4 linked regions of the Homo sapiens genome follow. The protein of the gene in region 3 purifies or fractionates together with the protein of the main gene of each other region. This does not show direct contact. Each region holds a gene or a part of one and is shown on either strand. Other genes may lie near its edges.

Evidence for each region.
Region 1: the proteins of SGSH (region 3) and SLC37A3 fractionate together in Homo sapiens (co-fractionation; one large-scale study listed by BioGRID). This does not show direct contact.
Region 2: the proteins of SGSH (region 3) and SUMF2 purify together in Homo sapiens (co-immunoprecipitation; one study listed by IntAct). This does not show direct contact.
Region 4: the proteins of SGSH (region 3) and NMD3 purify together in Homo sapiens (affinity purification with mass spectrometry; one large-scale study listed by BioGRID and IntAct). This does not show direct contact.

What each region holds. Positions count from the first base shown.
Region 1 is NC_000007.14:140,341,065-140,348,823, forward strand, and holds part of SLC37A3 (sugar phosphate exchanger 3), read right to left. Parts: intron 7,704-7,759; coding exon 7,562-7,703; intron 4,907-7,561; coding exon 4,805-4,906; intron 4,200-4,804; coding exon 4,152-4,199; intron 2,500-4,151; coding exon 2,348-2,499; intron 1-2,347. UniProt on the Homo sapiens protein: Unlike the other SLC37 members, lacks glucose-6-phosphate antiporter activity.
Region 2 is NC_000007.14:56,070,786-56,074,285, forward strand, and holds part of SUMF2 (inactive C-alpha-formylglycine-generating enzyme 2 isoform b precursor), read left to right. Parts: intron 1-2,211; coding exon 2,212-2,326; intron 2,327-3,388; coding exon 3,389-3,433; intron 3,434-3,500. UniProt on the Homo sapiens protein: Lacks formylglycine generating activity and is unable to convert newly synthesized inactive sulfatases to their active form. Inhibits the activation of sulfatases by SUMF1.
Region 3 is NC_000017.11:80,213,834-80,217,333, forward strand, and holds part of SGSH (N-sulphoglucosamine sulphohydrolase isoform 1 precursor), read right to left. Parts: intron 3,360-3,500; coding exon 3,199-3,359; intron 1,306-3,198; coding exon 1,200-1,305; intron 933-1,199; coding exon 782-932; intron 496-781; coding exon 339-495; intron 53-338; coding exon 1-52. UniProt on the Homo sapiens protein: Catalyzes a step in lysosomal heparan sulfate degradation.
Region 4 is NC_000003.12:161,238,311-161,241,810, reverse strand, and holds part of NMD3 (60S ribosomal export protein NMD3), read right to left. Parts: intron 3,082-3,500; coding exon 2,985-3,081; intron 766-2,984; coding exon 648-765; intron 1-647. UniProt on the Homo sapiens protein: Acts as an adapter for the XPO1/CRM1-mediated export of the 60S ribosomal subunit.

The sequences.
Region 1 (7,759 bases), on a different chromosome or scaffold from region 3:
AGTTGGGACAGGCACATACCACCATGCTCAGCTAACTTTTTATTTTTTGTAGAGATGAGGGTCTCACTATGTTGCTTGGGCTGGTCTTGAACTCTTGGCCTCAAGTAATTCTCCTGCCTTGGCCTCCCGAAGTGCTGGGATTACTGGCATGAGCCACCACACCTAGCCTCATGTACAAGTTTTAATGTGGACATTTGTTCTCATTTCTCTTGGGCAGATACTGCAATTTAATCTTACTGAACCCCTAGTATGTGTCAACAAAAGCACTAAGCATTGGGAATACAAAGACGAAGGAAACAAGCAGAGCACCTGTCACGGTGCATCACCTTTACACCGTGACAGGTGCCTACTACAGAACCGCATCAACTGCTATGGCAACCTGAAGAAGAAACAATTCTTTACTTGGGAAGTCAGGGAAAGACGGGGTAACAAAGTTATTCAGGGTAAATTAGTACACTGGCTAAGGACAGAGCTGATAGAGGTTAACGCTAAGTCACAGAGTTTGGGATTTCACCCCTTAGGCAATGGGAAATCATTCAAAACTCAACATGGAAGAGGAATGAGTAAAGCTAACAGTGATTTACTCCAGACGTGCTTCCCCAACCATGAAGGTCAGTCTAGGACCCAAGTTCACAGTGAGGGATCTGGATACTGGCAGGTGAGGCAATCTGAATAAAAGCAAATTCTCTGAAATACTCATTATAATGCACCCATTTAGTTAGTGAAGAAAACATTCGTAAGGAAGGATAACTTAAAATAATATAATGTCAGAAAAGGATGCCCAATGCAGCCACTCTCTACCCCATAGGTGAAGACGTCTGAACTGATGGCTGGGAGCATTTTTCGATTCCCGCTCCAGGGCATGATCAGGTAAGCGTATTTTTCAAGGCTTTGCTAAGGTTTTTGTTTCTTTGGGGTTTTTTGCCCTTTAGTCTTATAATCAAATATGCCAAGCATATCAGTCATTCATTCCACAAGTAATGTCTACTGTGTGCCAGGCACTGTTCTAGGTACTAAGGTGACAGAAGAACATACAACAAAATGCTGCGCTCAGGAAGCTTATGTTACAGTGGGAGAGACAGACATTAACAAGTGCATATAGACTATTAAAATACGGCTAGGTAGTCAAAGTATTAACATGGCTTACTTTACCTCAATACTTATCTCTCATTAACCACTAGCAATCAGACATCAGCAATTCACCCCCATCAAGCAAGTAACAATAATCTTCAAGGTTATTAATGACCTCCTAGATGTCAAAACTAAGAGCCTAAAAGACAAATCCTTCAGTTCTCTTTCTCCTGACCTCTCTACATCCATGACCTTACTAACGCCTTCTCAAACGCAGTTCCCTTGACTACAGGTTACTCTGCTGCCTTCCTCTTTCTTTGACCACTGGGCATTCCCTGAGACTCGGCCAACATTCTCTTTCCCTATTAAATGTTTCATTCACTTCCACAGGTTCAACTATTTTTATCCATACAGATGACTCTCAGATCCATCTTTCTACAAAATTAGTACTCTACAATCTGTAGTGGTATATCCTAGAAGAGGCATGACTCATGACTCTGCCAGAAAAGAAATATCTGTCCCAGAGAAAGTTGAATTTATGCAAAAAAAAAAAAGGTCAATGTAAATAATTCTAAGTATAGTAGGCCAATCTTAGTGTAGGGATCTCAAACATCTGAGTGTGGAAGAATCACCAAGAAGCCTTGTTGAAAATACAGATCTGTAGGTTCGAACTCAGCAAGTCTGTAGTATGCTTGGTGTTCTGTACTTTAATGAGTGTCCCAGATGATTCTGATACCAGACACTTATGGGCCACTCTTTGAGATACAGTCAGAGATTTTTGGATACACAGGAAGCAGAGCGAGTGATTCAGAAGCAGCTGCAGAGTCCATGGCCATGTCTGGCGGGGCCCAGGAAGGAACGTGTATGCAGTAGAGTGTCTGGGAGAGGGAGACGGGAGACAGCAATGGTGGGGTCCACATGCCAGGTGGGGATAACAAGAAGCACCCCCCACCACGGAATACCAAGTTCAGCCTGGAAAGAAAGAAGGGGATGGTGGGCTGGGGCAGAAGGATCTGTCTGTCTTACGAGGTCTTAGCTTATTTGCAGACAGGAAGAATCTAGAAGTATAAGTAGAAAAAAGGAACTAAAAACAATGGAGAGTCCTTCTACATTAGGACGCATCAGCTGGTCCTGAGGGGAGACGGAAGTCCTTGGGCTCTGGGAACAGCGTTCTACAGCACAAGAGTGCCACCTACTGAGGCCCAGAGGGCAGGTTCACATTCAGCCGCCTTTGAGGGAAGACACTAGAATCCCAGCCCCTCTCCTGTTCTCTCACCTGGCCCACTGCAGCTCCAATGCTCCCCGAACCATCCACAATTCCTGTGACAGTGGCCAAAGCTTCACTGCTCCTTTGGATGAGCTCCTGGCGACCCAAGTCCGCAGAAATAGCAGAACTAATCATATTAGAAGGTCCACCAATAAAAAATCCTGAAGTCATAAACAGGTTCTTATTAAAACACAATTCACAACCACTAGCAATCTACTGCATAAGGCAAAATAATATCCGAATAGTTTTCTTAATATGTTGGAGAGAAGTGGAAAAAAAAGGAAACCCCCAGATAGTATCATTTTCAAACTATTAGTAGTTAACATCCACGTTCCTGAAATCCCTTCTCGAATTATGTGACACTCTAGTATATTTTGTAGAACCCAAAGATACAAAAATAGTGAAACACATAGCCCTTCTAATCCTGTGAAGTTTACATTCATTAATAACTAATTGCACTAGCTTGTCAAATAAATTCTATTACGGTAGTTGCATCATATGATCATTCCACTACACAAATTCAACCAGGAATATTGAAAAAAAAGAGCAAAGAGGAAAAAGCCACTGCAATGGAGCAGGTGACTCTATCTGCCACTGCTCTCAGTGAGGCTGCCCATGAATCAGGCATGCGATGGCCCAGGTGAATCTGGTCCCACTGCTGGAATCAGTTCCATGTACCCCAAGTAGAATGAGCAGCTCACTCTCCCAAGCATGATCTAAAGTTTAAAATAAGTAACTTTTCTGGCCGGGCGCAGTGGCTTATGCCTGTAATCTCAGCACTTTGAGAGGCTGAGGTGGGCAGATCACCTGAAGTCAGGAGTTCGAGACCAGCCTGGGCAACATGGTGAAACGCTGTCTCTACTAAAAATACAAAAATTAGCTGGGCATGGTAGCAGGCGCCTGTAATCCCAACTACTTGGGAAGCTGAGGCAGAAGAATCACTTGAACCCAGGAGGTGGAGGTTGCAGTTAGCTGAGATCGCACCACTGCACTCCCATCTGGGTGACAAGAGCGAGACTCCTTCTCAAAAATAAAAATAAAATTAGAAAGTTTAAAATAAGTAATTTTTCTGGCTGGGGATGGTGGCTCACGCCTGTAATCCCAGCATTTTGGGAGGCCAAGGCAGGTGGATCACCTGAGGTCAGGAGTTTGAGACCAGCCTGGGCAACATGGTGAAACCATGTCTCTACTAAAAATACAAAAATTAGCTGGGCGTGGTGGTGCACGCCTATATTACCAGCTACTCAGGAGGCTGAGGCAGGAGAATCACTTGAACCCAAGAGGTGTAGGTTGCAGTGAGCTGAGACTGTGCCACTACACTCCAGCCTGGGCAACAGAGCAAGATTCTGTCTCAATAAATAAATAATAAATAAAGTAAGTAATTTTTCTATAACATAGTCCCTAAATGCACCCAACTATTTTATCTAGTGCTCAAGTGACAAAATGCTGACCAATTCCAACACAGGAGGAGACACGAGCTATTGTGGATTTTTTTGAAAGCTGGTGAATTGGTCTCCCATGTGGCATTTTTCTAAGTCACTTTTAGAGGTAAGAGCAGAAGCTGGGGCAGCAATCAAAAATCGTAGAAAATCTCTGTCAATAGGGACCGCTTCTGTCACAATAGGACTGAGGAGGTCATGTAAGAAACAGCAGAGAAAAAGAATCTGGAAAAGGAGGCGTTTTTCCTTTTAAAATTTGAATTCTCTGTAATTAAGGTTTCGGTACTACTCAAATTGAGGGAGAAAACAGTTTCCCTTTTCCTCTGAATTTACAGAGCAACAGAAGCATGGTGGAGCAGAGCCATGTGCCGTACCTGTAACAGTCATCAGAAGGGCATTGATGGACTTATCATTTGGAGAACCTGTGAGGGAAGACACAGACAAACCATGGTGGCTTGAAAAGCAGACTCCACGTGCCTCTGCCAACCGTACGCGAAGATCTGAATCTCCGTGACCTCACAAATCACTCCCAGAGACAACAAAGAGACACAACTCTCTCTGCCTCTTTCAACTCTGATTTGTAACGTCTGCCTCTTGCTAATGCTCAAGCTAACAAGACTTCTAAAAGCTAAAGAAAAGCTCTACTCCTGTCTCAGCAGCATCTTAAGGGAATATACCAAACCTACTAATTACCATCTTTCCGCTTTTGAAACCTGTTCCCTTTTTATTGTTTTATTGGCTATAATGCTGTGCCTCTGGAGCCTCCCCCAAACAAAGCATATACACTCCCAAGCAAGCTTTTAAGCAAATTAACAAAGCAAAAGAGATGCCAGTTTCCTCCCAAGACAAATAAAACTATGTGATGACAGGTTTCCCAGGCATTCACAGGACAATGCAAAGGTGGCATATCGGGCCTTGAAGCTGGTCTCCAGGCTCTCCCCAGCACTGGTCACTGACTCCAAACAAATGCCTTATTCCAACCAGATTAGGGGAGCAAAGGAATTAGTAATTGCAAAAGAATACTCACGACTATACCCGATGAGGGACCCAACTGCCAGAAGCAGACTCAGGGCAAGAACCGGCGCTCTCTTCTGTAGTACATCAGAGATGAAGCCTTGCAAAGTTCCACCTTCAAGCAGAGTGTCGAGCAATCAAAATCACTTCTAATTTAGCTCGCTCACCTGAGGCGTGCTCCCCATTTGCCCTCTAGTCTCACTAGCAGCAGCCTGACACTAGTCTATCAAAAAATATGGCTGGGCCGGGCTCGGTGGCTCACACCTGTAATCCCAGCTCTTTGGGAGGCTGAGGCAGGTGGATCACAAGGTCAGGAGATGGAGACCATCCTGGCTAACACAGTGAAACCCTGTCTCTACTAAAAATACAAAAAAATTAGCCGGGCGTGGTGGCGGGCACCTGTAGTCCCAGCTACTCAGGAGGCTGAGGCAGGAGAATGGTGTGAACCTGGGAGGCGGAGCTTGCAGTGAGCCGAGATTGCGCCACTGCACTCCAGCCTGGGTGACAGAGCGAGACTCTGTCTCAAAAAAAAATAGGTCTGACTCCCTGAAAAGGGGTCCTCCATAACTTCCTTTTAGGAATAAACTGTCTGTTAAATCACCATGATGACCAGTGGGGACAGGAGACCACAAATCAGACAGCAAAACATGAAAAAAGGAAAAACTGTCAAAGCCATCGGCTATCCCTTACAAAAACAAGTTGTGAATGCTATTTTTGATTTTTCTTTTTAATTTGAAAGATAATGAATTAAGAACTATGCCTTGCTGGGCATGGTGGCTCATGCCTATAATCCCAGCACTTTGGGAGACCAAGGCTGGGGGACTGCTTGAGGCCAGGGGTTCAAAACCAGCCTGGGCAACACAGTGCCCTTATCTCTATAAAAGATAAATTAGCCGGGCATGGTAGCACGTGCCTATATTCCCAGCTACTTGGGAGGCTGAGGTAGGAGGATGGCTTGAGCCCAGGAGGTTGAGGCTGTGGTGAACCGTATCGTGCTGCTTGAACCCAGGAGGCTGAGGCTACAGTGAGCTGTATTGTGCCACTGCACTCTAGCCTGGGCAACAGAGCAAGACCGTGTCTCAAAAACCAAAAAAACTGTGCCTTACAGTATATTGAGGCCAGTAGGTGGGCACAGTGGCTCACGCCTGTAATCCCAGCACTCTGGGAGGCCGAGGTGGGCAAATTGCCTGAGCTCAGGAGTTTGAGACCAGCCTGGGCAATACAGTGAAATGCCATCTCTACAAAAAATACAAAAAAATTAGCTGGGTGTGGTGGTGCATGACTGTAGCCCCAGGTACTTAGGGAGGATCGCTTGAGCCCAGGAGGTTGTGGCTCCAGTGAGCCAAGATCGTGCCACTCCAGCGTGGGCGACAGAGCAGTACCCCCATCTCCAAAAAAAAAAAAAAAGAAAAAAAAAAGTGGCTAGTAAATATTCACTAAAATAAAATTTAGCAGTTATGGTTTGCTAATAGGACACAATCTTTAAAAAGCAGGGATATGAATCTTTCAAGCAACAATGTCACATACAGCACCATTCTGAGTTGTAGGGGCTATTGGACATCTGGTGTGTCCTTATCAGATAGCAGGCAGCTGGACAATTTCAACTTCAGAGGATACAGAATATGGTGAGGTCTAACGGTGGCAACCTCACCTTTGGCTCTGGATTTAAGAATACGGGCAGCCAAGTTCAAATACAGTAATAGCAGATTGCCTAGCACAGACTGTGTGCTTTCACAAGCTCACGGCAGTTGAGTCTCACCACAATTCTAAATGTTAACATTATTGAAGGTTATTAAGATCTGGCACAGCCATGTAAGTAATACCCACTAAAATACATTCTGCTCCTCTGCCTTACTTCCTTGTTCATACTTATTACCTCCTTGTTGATACTTCTAGCTACAGCAAAAAAAAAAAAAACCACTATTAAAATCTTTGTTTATAATGAAACAACTGTAAAACATTCACAAAAATTAATCCCTGCTGTTACGTCTACCTCTATGATCTGACGACCTACACACTAAGGTGTATTTCCCCTTTATCCTCAGCAGATATGTTCCATGACCCCCGTGGATACCTGAAACCACAGACAGTACCAAACTCTATACATACTATGTTTTTTTCTATACATACATACCCACGATCAAGTTTAATTTATAAGTTGGGCACAGAAATTAACAATAACGACAAAATAGAAAATAATAACAATATACTGTAACATAAGTTATATGAATGGTCTCTCTGAAAATATCTTATTGTACGGTATTAAGAGTAACTGAAACTTCGAAAAGTGAAACCACAGATAAGTGGGGGACTGGTGTATTCTTCCTTATTAGGCTGGGGAAGGTGGGGAAGGTGGGAGGTAGATACAATGAACACGTTCATATTCTAACTTGGATCTCTGACATACAATTAGCTTTAGAGCTAAGATATCACTGAGAAAGCCGTATGAAAGGATTGCATTTAAAGAGATTCCCATGTGCTTCCCGAGACAAAAGAACTGATCCATCAACAAAGGACTAAGAAAAAAGAGTCCAATAAATCACAGCGCTGCCTTAGGCTAGGTCTTCCTTTCTATGGACCTCTTGTTTTTTCTTTTCTTTTCTTTTCTTTTTTTTTTTTTTTTGAGTTTGGCTGTTTACTAGTAGGACAGTTTAGGGAAAATGGCTGTAGAATAAGTAATAAAACTTTAAATGAGGCCAGATTTCACAACCCAGTAAAAGATCACTAGTGACTAACTCTTTATTATGGAAAAGATGTATCACCGGCATACCTATGATCCCTCCAACGTCGTACCAAATGGACAGCTTGTCGGCTTCCGCCTCCTTCCAGCCGAAGTTGTTACTCAGATAAAAGGGGAGCCAGAAGAAGAAGGAGTAATTCACTAACTTCAAGCAGGCGTAGGCCAGTGAGTACTACAAGAAAAGCATTCAACTATCAGCGAGGGACAAATAGCACAGCACGACTACCA
Region 2 (3,500 bases), on a different chromosome or scaffold from region 3:
TGGTATGTCCATACAATAAGATACTACTCATCGATAAAAAGGGACAGACTACTAATGGCAACAACATGGATGAATCTCAGAAGCCTTTTGCTAAGTGAAGGAAACCTCCGCCAGACCCAGAAGACTACATACTGTATGATTCAAGTTATATGGTGTTCTGGGAAAGGCAAAACTATAGGGACAAAAAAACCTGGTCCGTGGTTGGTGAGTTGCAGGGAAATTTTTTTGGAGGTGACCGATGGAACTATTCTGTATCTTGATTATTGTAGTGACTATATGCTTTGTCAAACTCACAGAACTGCTGAGCACAGTGGCTCATGCCTGTAGTCCCAACACTTTGGGAGTCCGAGGTGTGTGGATCACTTGAGCTCAGAATTTTTAGACCAGCCTGGGCAACATAGTGAGACCCCATCTCTACAAAATTAGCTAGGCATGGTGGCATGCACCTGTAGTCACAGCTACTTGGGAGGCTGAGGAGGGAAAATTGCTTGGGCCCAGGAGGTCAAGGCTGCAGTGAGCTGTGATTATGCCACTGCACTGCAGTCTGGGTGACAGAGTGAGACCCAGTCTCAAAATATAAATAATTAAAATAAATCAGGAGGCTGAGGCACGAGAATCTCTTGAACCCAGGAGGTCGATGCTACAGTAAGCCATGATTGTGCCACTGCACTCCAGCCTGGGTGACAGAGTGAGACCTGGTGTCAAAAAAATAAATGATTGGTTGGGCGCAGTGGCTCACACCTGTAATCCCAGCACTTTGGGAGGCTGAGGCAGGCAGATCACAAGGTCAGGAGTTCAAGACCAACCTGACCAACATGGTGAAACCCCATCACTACTAAAAATACAAAAATTAGCCGGGTGTGCTGGCATACACCTGTAATCCCAGCTACTCAGGAGGCTGAGGCAAGATTATCGCTTGAACCCAGGAGGTAGAGGTTGCAGTGAGCTGAGTTCATGCCACTGCACTCAAGCCTGGGCCATAGAGTGAGACTCCGTCTAAAAATAAATAAATAAATAAATAAATAAATAATTAAATAAAAAATAATTTGGGCACAGTGGCTCATGCCTGCAATCCCAGCACTTTGGGAGGCCGAGGCGGGCAGATCATGAAGTCAGGAGTTTGAGACCAGCCTGGCCAACATGGTGAAACCCGTCTCTACTAAAAAGACAAAAATTAGTGGGCATGGTGGTGTGCACCTGTAATCCCAGCTACTGGGGAAGCTGAGGCAAGAGAATCGCTTGAACCCAGGAGGTGGAGGTTGCAGTGAGCTGAGATTGCACCACTGCACTCCAGCCTGGGCAACAGTCTTTTTGAGACAGAGCAAGACTCTGTCTCAAAAAAAAAAAAAAAAAATATTGGCCAAGTGTTGTGCCTCACACCTGTAATCCCAACACTTTGGGAGGCCACTTTGGGTGGATCACCTGAAGTTAGGAGTTCGAGACCAGCCTGGCTAACATTGCGAAACCCTATCTTTACAAAAAATACAAAAATTAGCTGGGCGTGGTGGTATACGTCTGTAATCCCAGCTACTTAAGAGACTGAGGCTAGAGAATCACTTGAACCTGGGAGGTGGAGGTTGCAGTGAGCTGAGATTGTGTCACTGCACTCCAGCCTGGGCAACAGAGTGAGACTTTGTCTCAAAAAAATAAATAAATAGGACAGGTGTGGTGGCTCACGCCTGTAATCTCAGCCCTTTGGGAGGCCGAGGCAGGTGGATCACTAGGTCAGGAGTTCGAGACCAGCCTGGCCAACATGGTGAAACCCTGTCACTACTAAAAATACAAAAATTACCTGGGCGTGGTGGCAGACGCCTGTAATCCCAGCTACTTGGGAGGCTGAGGCAGGAGAATGGCGTGAAACCGGGAGGCGGAGCTTGCAGTGAGCCGAGATCACACCATTGCACTCCAGCCTGGGCGACAGAGTGAGACTCCATCTCTAAATAAATACACAAATAAACAAACAAATAAAATAAAAAATTAATTAACCTCACAGAACTAAACACTGAAGAGAGTGAATTTTACTGTATGTGAATTCGTTGTATTCTAATTTAAAAGAAAATCACTCAGGCTTCAGGTTAATTCCTTGGCAATCATGAACACTCTGTGGTGTATAACTTACAGGACAGGGATATCTGAAGTTTCCTGGAGCAGGAGAAGATGGGGTGGGCACAGAACCTCACCAGCTGAACCAGCTGAACTATGTCTTTATAGGGATTTTGTCAGGGAGAAAAAGTATCGGACAGAAGCTGAGATGTTTGGATGGAGCTTTGTCTTTGAGGACTTTGTCTCTGATGAGCTGAGAAACAAAGCCACCCAGCCAATGAAGGTGAGAGAACCTGGTCTTGCAGCTGAGGGGATAGGAGTGGGACCTGGACAGGGAATCCTGTGGGACATGGGTTACCTGGGACACAGTGGAGAATCAGACCTGAGAGGTGGAGGCAGAGGGGAAGCAAGAGAAACTCACCATGGAGCGTCAGATCAGTACACACTCCCAGGAAGTTAACCCTGAACCCAAGTTAGCTCTTGCCTAAATGTCCAAGTCAGGATAGGATCCAAGGAACTTGAATCAAGAGATCACCTTGGTGGGCCGAGCGTGGTGTCTCATGCCTATAATCTCAGCACTTTGAGAGGCTGAGGTGAGTGGATCACCTGAGGTCAGGAGTTCAAGACCAACATGGCGAAACCCCGTCTATACTAAAAATACAAAAATTAGACAGGCATGGTGGCACGCTCCTGTAATCTGAGCTACTCAGGAGGCTGAGGCATGAGAATCGCTTGAACCTGGAAGGCAGAGGTTGCAGTGAGCCGAGATGGCGCCACTGCACTCCAGCCTGGGTGACAGAGTGAGACTGTGTCTCAAAAGAAAAAAAAAAAGAGAGATCACCTTGGCAAGCCAACCTCTAATAAGGGTGGTAAGATGGGCTCTATAAAGATTCCAGTCTCAGCTGGGCGCAGCAGCTCACGCCTGTAACCCCAGCACTTTGGGAGGCCGAGGTGGGACAATTGCTTGAGCCCAAGAATTCAAGACCAGCCTGGGCAACATAGATCCCATATCTACAAAAAAAAGAAAAAAAAGAAAATTAGCTGGGCATGGTCATGCACACCTGTAGTCCCAGCTACTCAGGAGGTTGAGGTGGGAGGATTACCTGAGTCCAGGAGGTTGAGACTGCAGTGAGCTCTGATGGTGCCACTGCACTCTAGCCTGAGTGACAGAGCAAGATCTTGTCTCAAAAAAAAAAAAAAAAAAAAAAAAAAAAAATCAGCCACAACCTCACTTAGACCACCTGAGTCTCAGCCTGACGTCTCTGTTCTGCGTCCTGTGGCTCAGTCGGGGAGGTGCCTTTGCTGGGCCGGAGCATCTTGCAGTCGGTCTCCTTCTTTTTCGCAGTCTGTACTCTGGTGGCTTCCAGTGGAAAAGGCATTTTGGAGGCAGGTAAGGGCTGATTCCGCTACCTCATTTTCTACCCCTGCTTGACTCTTATTCTCCAGGCCCAGCCTCC
Region 3 (3,500 bases):
GAGCGGCCAGGTCGGCTCGGGCTGCCGGGGTGTTGGGGACGAAGTAAGGCACCTGGGGCAGGCGGTGGGGAGCCAGGCTTAGAACAGACAGACCGGGGGAGCGGTGTCCAGCCTTCTCCCCGGGGCCTCCTGCAAATGGGTTAGCCCAGAACAGCCTCACTCCGGACCACCCCGTCTCTCTACGGTTCTCTCTGTGGCCCCGAGGTTGGGAACCTGAATCCGATTTGGTCAGAGCCTCTTTCTTCATCATCTAGGGCCAGGGCTGCAAGCTCGTAGGAGGCCAGGGTCCCCGACCCAGGGCTGACGGGCGTCCTGAAACACAGGAGGGGCCGTCCTACCAGCACGTCCAGTGGGTCGTAGGCCTGGGGGGTCCAGTCTGGGATACGACCCATGCCGCTCTCTCCGTTGCCAAACTTCTCACAGAAGGTTCCGTACTGGGGCTGGGAGTGCCCACAGCGGTGGGGGTCGTGGAAGGCGACGTAGAGGAAGAAAGGCCTGCACGGGAGGAGGCTCATTGCCAAGGCTGCGGGGCCACTGCCACGTGGCACAGGAAGCCCCTCGGCTCTGCCTCCTCCTCTGTATCTGGAAGTCAACCTGTGACCCTCACTGCCTCAGTTTCCCCACGTCCCTTCTCCCTCTGACCAGGCTAACTCGAGTACCTGGAACCTTCTCCCCTGCCCCCATTCGAGCCACGTGGGGGCCCATGCATCCCGCCGGAAGACTCCGGGCTGTGCTCTGGTACCGGCCGCCAGGGGGAAGGGGCAGGGGCCCCGACTCATACCGGTCATCCTGAGTCTGCAGGAATTTCCGGACGAGCAGCTTAATTCTAGTGATGTTCCGCCCCACCTGGAGGACGGAGCCATTCTCCTCCGTGTACGCAAAGTCAAACGGGTACACGGTCTCCGGCCCCACGTGCTTCTTCCCGATGATGCCTGGGCGGGAAGAGAGGCCTGGCCAGAGTCCCTTCAGCCTCCCAACCCTTTCTGCTCCCTTCTCTGCCCCTCTCGGCCCTAAGCGCACTGTGGGTTCTCGTGGACACACAGCCCAGCCAGGAGACCCAGGCCCAGATCCTTTGGGACAAGAGCTAAGGGCAGGCCACGGGGGCTGAGCGTGCCTTGGTACAAGGTGCCGAACCTCCTGGGCTCTGGCCTGGCCTCTGTGCCTCACCCCACGCCCTGTCCTCGGCACGGGGTCCTCACCTGTGCGCACACCAGCTTGGCTGAGCAGCAGCGGCAGGCTCCGCACCTTGTCGAAGGAGTTGAAGTGGTGCACGTCCTGGTGCAGCCCGTACATCCCATTCTGATGCTGCCAGCAAAGGCGCATGAGGTCCGGGGCCCCCGGACAGCCAGAGCCCGCCTGCCGCACCTGTTCTCCCACGGCCCTCCCATCCCCAGGGGCCTTCTCGGGGCCCTGATTTAGACTTCGAGTGGCCAGCACCCAGAGACACTGGCTGTACCTCCCACTCCCTGCCCGATAGGCCCATGGGTCCCTCCCGTGAAAGGAGGACTTCGCCAGAAAGAAGGGGACCTGCAGGGCGTGCACCGACACGAGGGTGGCCTTGATGTTCTTTTTGCGTATCCGTACTTTTGAACTCTTCTGTTATGATCACACGTTACAGAGTGAAAAAGACAGGGTCAGGCCTTGTTTTATTACCTAGTTATTTTATATTGTAAAAGATGTGTACATTTTAAAAACTCAGACTGCCGGCCGGGCGTGGTGGCTCACGCCTGTAATCCCGGCACTTTGGGAGGCCAACGCAGGTGGATCACGAGGTCAGGAGATGGAGACCAGCCTGGCCAACATGGTGAAACCTCGTCTCTACTAAAAATACAAAAATTAGCTGGGCGTGGTGGCGGGCGCCTGTAGTCCCAGCTACTCGGGAGGCCGAGGTAGGAGAATGGCTTGAATCTGGGAGGTGGAGGTTGCAGTGAGCCGAGATCACACCACTGCACTCCAGCCTGGGCAACAGAGTGAGACTAAAAGAACAAGTGTCCTTAAACACCCATGTTCATAGCAGCTTTATTCACAACAGCCAAAGGGTAGCAGCAACCCAAGTGCCCACTGACGGATGAATATGGAGAAGCAAAATACGGGGCCCATCCATCCACTGGAATATGAGTCAGCCCTGAAGAGGAGGGAAGTTCTGACTCGTGCTACAGCATATGGTTAACCCTGAGGACATTGTGCTGAGTGAAGTAAGGACACAAAAGGGGGGCCGGGCTCGGTGGCTCACGCCTGTAATCCCAGCACTTTGGGAGGTCGAGGCGGGCAGATCACTTGAGGCCAGGAGTTCGAAACCAGCCTGACCAACATGATGAAACCCCATCTCTACTAAAAATACAAAAATTAGACAGGCGTGGTGGCGCGCACCTGTAATCCCAGCTACTCGGGAGGCTGAGGCAGGAGACTCGCTGGAACCGGGGAGGCAGAGGCTGCAGTGAGCCACGATCGCACCACAGCACTCCAGCCTGGGTGACAGAGTGAGACTCCAACTCAAAAAAAAAAAGGACTAGTCCTGTGTGATTCCACTCTTATGTGGCCCCTGGAGCAGTCAGATTCATAGAGACAGGGGATGGGGAGGGAGAATGTGGAGCTGGTGTTTCATGGGACAGAGCTTCTGTTTGGGTAGATGGAAAAGTTCTGGAGATGGATGGTGGTGATGGCTGCATAACACTGTGAATGCACTTAATGCCCCGGAACTGTGCGCTGAAAAATGGCTAAGATGGGAATGTTGATGTTTGTGCATTTTACCACAGTAAAATAGGAGCATGTGTGCCTTAACGGTGTCCGCTCCCTGCACCATGGCGTTCCTGGGACACTGTGGCCATGGCGGTTCACGCTGAGTGAGCCCACCAGGCCTCGCACTAAGTGTTTACATACAAAGCATTAGCCCCGCCAATCTCCATAACTAGAGTGGCATCTCATTACACCCACCATCTTACAGATGAGGAAACTGAGGCACAAGGAGGTAGGTGACTTGCTCAAGGCCACACACAGCAGTGCAGCCAGGGCTGGCGGGTGAGTCGGAGCCCCTAGTCTGCACTCACAGCCATAGGCTGTGCCTCCTCCTGGAGGTGGGAGGGAAAGTGGGCAACACCCCCCGGGATCCCAGGGATGGGAGACGTGGCAGAGGCCTGGGCCCCGGACGCAGCCTGTCTACTCCCTGCCCACCCCCTCCTCCCGCCCCTTGCACCTCACCTGGGGCAGGCCAGTGAGGAGGCTGGCGCGGCTGGGAGAGCAGCTGCTGACCGAGGTGAAGGCATTGCGAAAGAGGAGGCTGCGGCGGGCCAAGGCGTCCAGGTGCGGGGTGGCGATGGCGCTGTTGTTGTACGCGCCACTCTCAAAGCCTCCGTCATCCGCTGCGTGAGGTGGGAGACAGAGAGTGCACGGTCGGCTGCGGTCACGAGAAACAGCACTGGGAGTGAGGGAGGCTGGGACTGTGATGCCAGAAGGCGAGACACCCAGGTGGGCATGGTACTGGCTCAGTGTGAACACTCAGC
Region 4 (3,500 bases), on a different chromosome or scaffold from region 3:
CAAAATTTAAAATAACTGCTAGACACCAAATTTTGGCAATGGACTTAAGTAAATAGTCACAAAAATTAAATGAGGTAAATAAGTCAATTTCAGGCTGGACATGGTGGCTCACGCTTGTAATCCCAGCACCTTGGGAGGCCGAGGCGGGCAGATCACGAGGTCAGGAGTTCAAGACCAGCCTGGCCAACACAGTGAAACCCCGTCTCTACTAAAAATACAAAAATTAGCTGGGCATGGTGGCAGGCACCTGTAATCCCAGCTACTTGGGAAGCTGCAGCAGGAGAATAGCTTGAACCTGGGAGGCGGAGGTTGCAGTGAGCTGAGATTGCGCCACTGCACACCAGCCTGGGCAATAGAGCCAGACTCCATCTCAAAAAAAAAAAAAAAAAAGTCAATTTCAGTAAAAATTAATGGAATAAACCAGTAAATATGTAAAAATTAACAGAATTGTTTCTTTAAATAAAAAATACAAAAGTAACTAATCAAAGCTTGCAAATTCCACAATGTTTTGTATTAAACAATAGCACAAATTTTAACTAACCTTTCAAAACAATATTAGCAAGAATGCTTGAAAAATTAACAACACAAATTATTATTGTTTGTCATACAAAACAAAATTGTCAAGGCAAATCATTTCCAGAATTTACCTTGTAGGGTGTTTGGATCAATGAGGTGAATGGCACTGGTTACTCGAATACACACACAAATCTGGTTCATATTTCCCAGGCTTTGTGCCAGTTTTGGAGACAGACAGACAACATTATCCTAGGCATAAGAACTAACATTTAGAATGAGGCATATCCTAAATAACAGTCCAATAAACACTCATCAATAAACACCCAATCCAATTGCATTTGACCAACCAAAACGTTATTTTCAATTCTATCAATCAACAAAGAGACTAAAGAAAAGAATCAGACCTTAAGTATGACAGGCATCTTGTCTTAATAAAAATGCTTTAAAAAAAAAAAAATCCTGGCTGAGCACGCTGGCTCACTCCTGTAATTCCAGCAATCTGGGAGGACAAGGTGGGAGAATCCCTTGAGCCCAGGAGTTCAAGTCTAACCTGGACAACATATGGAGACCCTGTCTCCATATACATATATATATATATTTTAATTAGCCAAACGTGGTGGTGCATGCCTGTGGGCCTAGCTACTTGGGAGGCTGAGGTGGAATGACAGCCTGGGCCCAGGAGGTCGAGGCTTCAGTGAGTTAAGGTGGTGCCACTGCACTCTAGCCTAGGTGACAGAGCAAAACTGTCTCTCAAAAAAAAAAAAAAAATCCAGGGCCCAAATCACCAAGCTATTATTATTTCCATTTTATTGCAGTGTGAATGCCTCTTATCACTCTATATGTTAATACAGTGTACATTCTAAACAGAGTATTATAAACATTAGCAGGAGAGTGATTCTATAAATCCACCTGTGACTTCTTTCAATCTCCATTAAAAAATAAACTTCAAAGGAACACATTTCTCTTACATGGCTACATGTGCCAATATACAATCAAAGATTTAAGCCCAAAAAAGTCACATGTCTACATTTATATTGGGAGACATGAAGCAGCAACGTAATTATCTGTTTTTAAACTGAATTAAAATACAAAAAAGATCTGAGTTATATTTTAAGGTGTATCTATTCACAATCATAACAGCTCTTAGTTCAGTCCTTGGTTTTTAATACATGAGTTTCCAAAGATAAACAAATATACTTTTTTACATAGTTTAATACATATGTTAATTTTTACATGTGTAAAACTCAGTTACACAAGGCCTAAATATGCCCTCACACCTAAATTCATATTTCTCAAGATTTGTACCAGGGAAACATTTACTGTTTTAAACCAGAGGTTGGCAAAATGCCACCCTCAGGACAAATCTGACCCACCATCTGTTTTTGTAAATAAAGTTTTACCAGAACACGGCCCTGACATTCCTTTACATATTACCCATGCTACTTTTGTACAACAGCAAAGCTGAGTAGCTGCAAAAGAGATTATACGACCTGAAAGTTAAAAAATTTACCATCTGTCTCTTTACAGAGAAAGTTTGCTGACCCTATTTTAAGCTATCATTTCATCCCTAGTACATACTATAAAATAGCAATAGCAGTTTTAAAGCTTTGGAGACACAGACCTGGGTGCAAATCCTAGCTTCATCATTTTGTGATCATGTAACTTTGGGCAAGTTATCTAACCTCCTCAAACTTCAATTTCCTCATCGTCAAAATGATATGGCTTACCTCAGTTATTATGAGATGAGAATGAGGTGAAAGACACTAAAGTATCTAGATTAACTTTATGTAGAATGGTCACAATAATGGCAGTTATCATTCTTAGTGATTTAATACTGACATATAAATTCTTACATGGCAGAGACCTGTAGTTATACAATCCTCAGTACACAGCCTTCTATACTATAGATACTCAATAACTATTTATTGAATTTTAATTCATATTTTTCTGAAGCAGAGTTTTATCTTAGTACAATTAAATGAAATAATCTACATTTTAAATGTTTTATTCAGCTTATGTTTTAAAATCATAAAAATGATTCTATGATCTCATTTTCACATTATCACAATATTCTTTCATTTCTTGCCAAAATTTTGTTTGTACATATTCCACAAAGTGGCTCACTAATATTGATTTTAATGTCATTTCTTTTATTCAATTTCACTGAACTATATGATACAGGCTCATAGGATCACAAATTTCAAAGAATACGGACTTTTATCAACTATAACCAGGTCTTTTCATTTTAATACACCAAAATAAAAGGCATGTCAATTCATAATTATAAGCATGACTTTTTTAAAAATATATATCTTTTAACATGGCTGAATGTGTTAGAAGTCACTTAAGGAACTTATTCTAAATTTTTAACCAACCCTAGAGGAAAACCAGGAGCTACAAATTACATATAAGCCAATTAATTACTTGTACTCTTTTACAGATATGGATTAAATGAAAAAGAAAAGTACCTTGCATATTGGAACAATTTCCACAGAAAAAGTGCTTTTGTAATTGTATGTGTTACTATGGATATCTTGAGAGATCAGTCTTTGTGATGCTTTGTATCTATTAAGAAAAAAGTTAGTAGTAATATAAAGACAAAGATCATTAACCTGTATGGACTCAGGAATATCAATTTTCATTAAATCAAACCATCATTGTCCAAGGTCTAAAATGGCTTCATGATGCCTCCTCTGGTAAAACCTACTGTCCTGCACTTGCATGTCAAAACCTTCACCATTCTAACTAAGCCCTACCTATTTTGAACCTTTTCCACCAAACCTCTAGAACATGCTGTTGGCTCAGACCAATCTACTTTCTATATAGCATTATTAAAAGCCATACTAACGCCCACTGCAAATCTTTGTTCACACTAATAGTACCTTTCAATATAAACTCCAGCTATGAAAATTTCCCGATCTTTGGAGCACAAGTCCTACCACCTCTGTGAGTGGGTGGTTAACCCAATATATGCTTCCTGATTG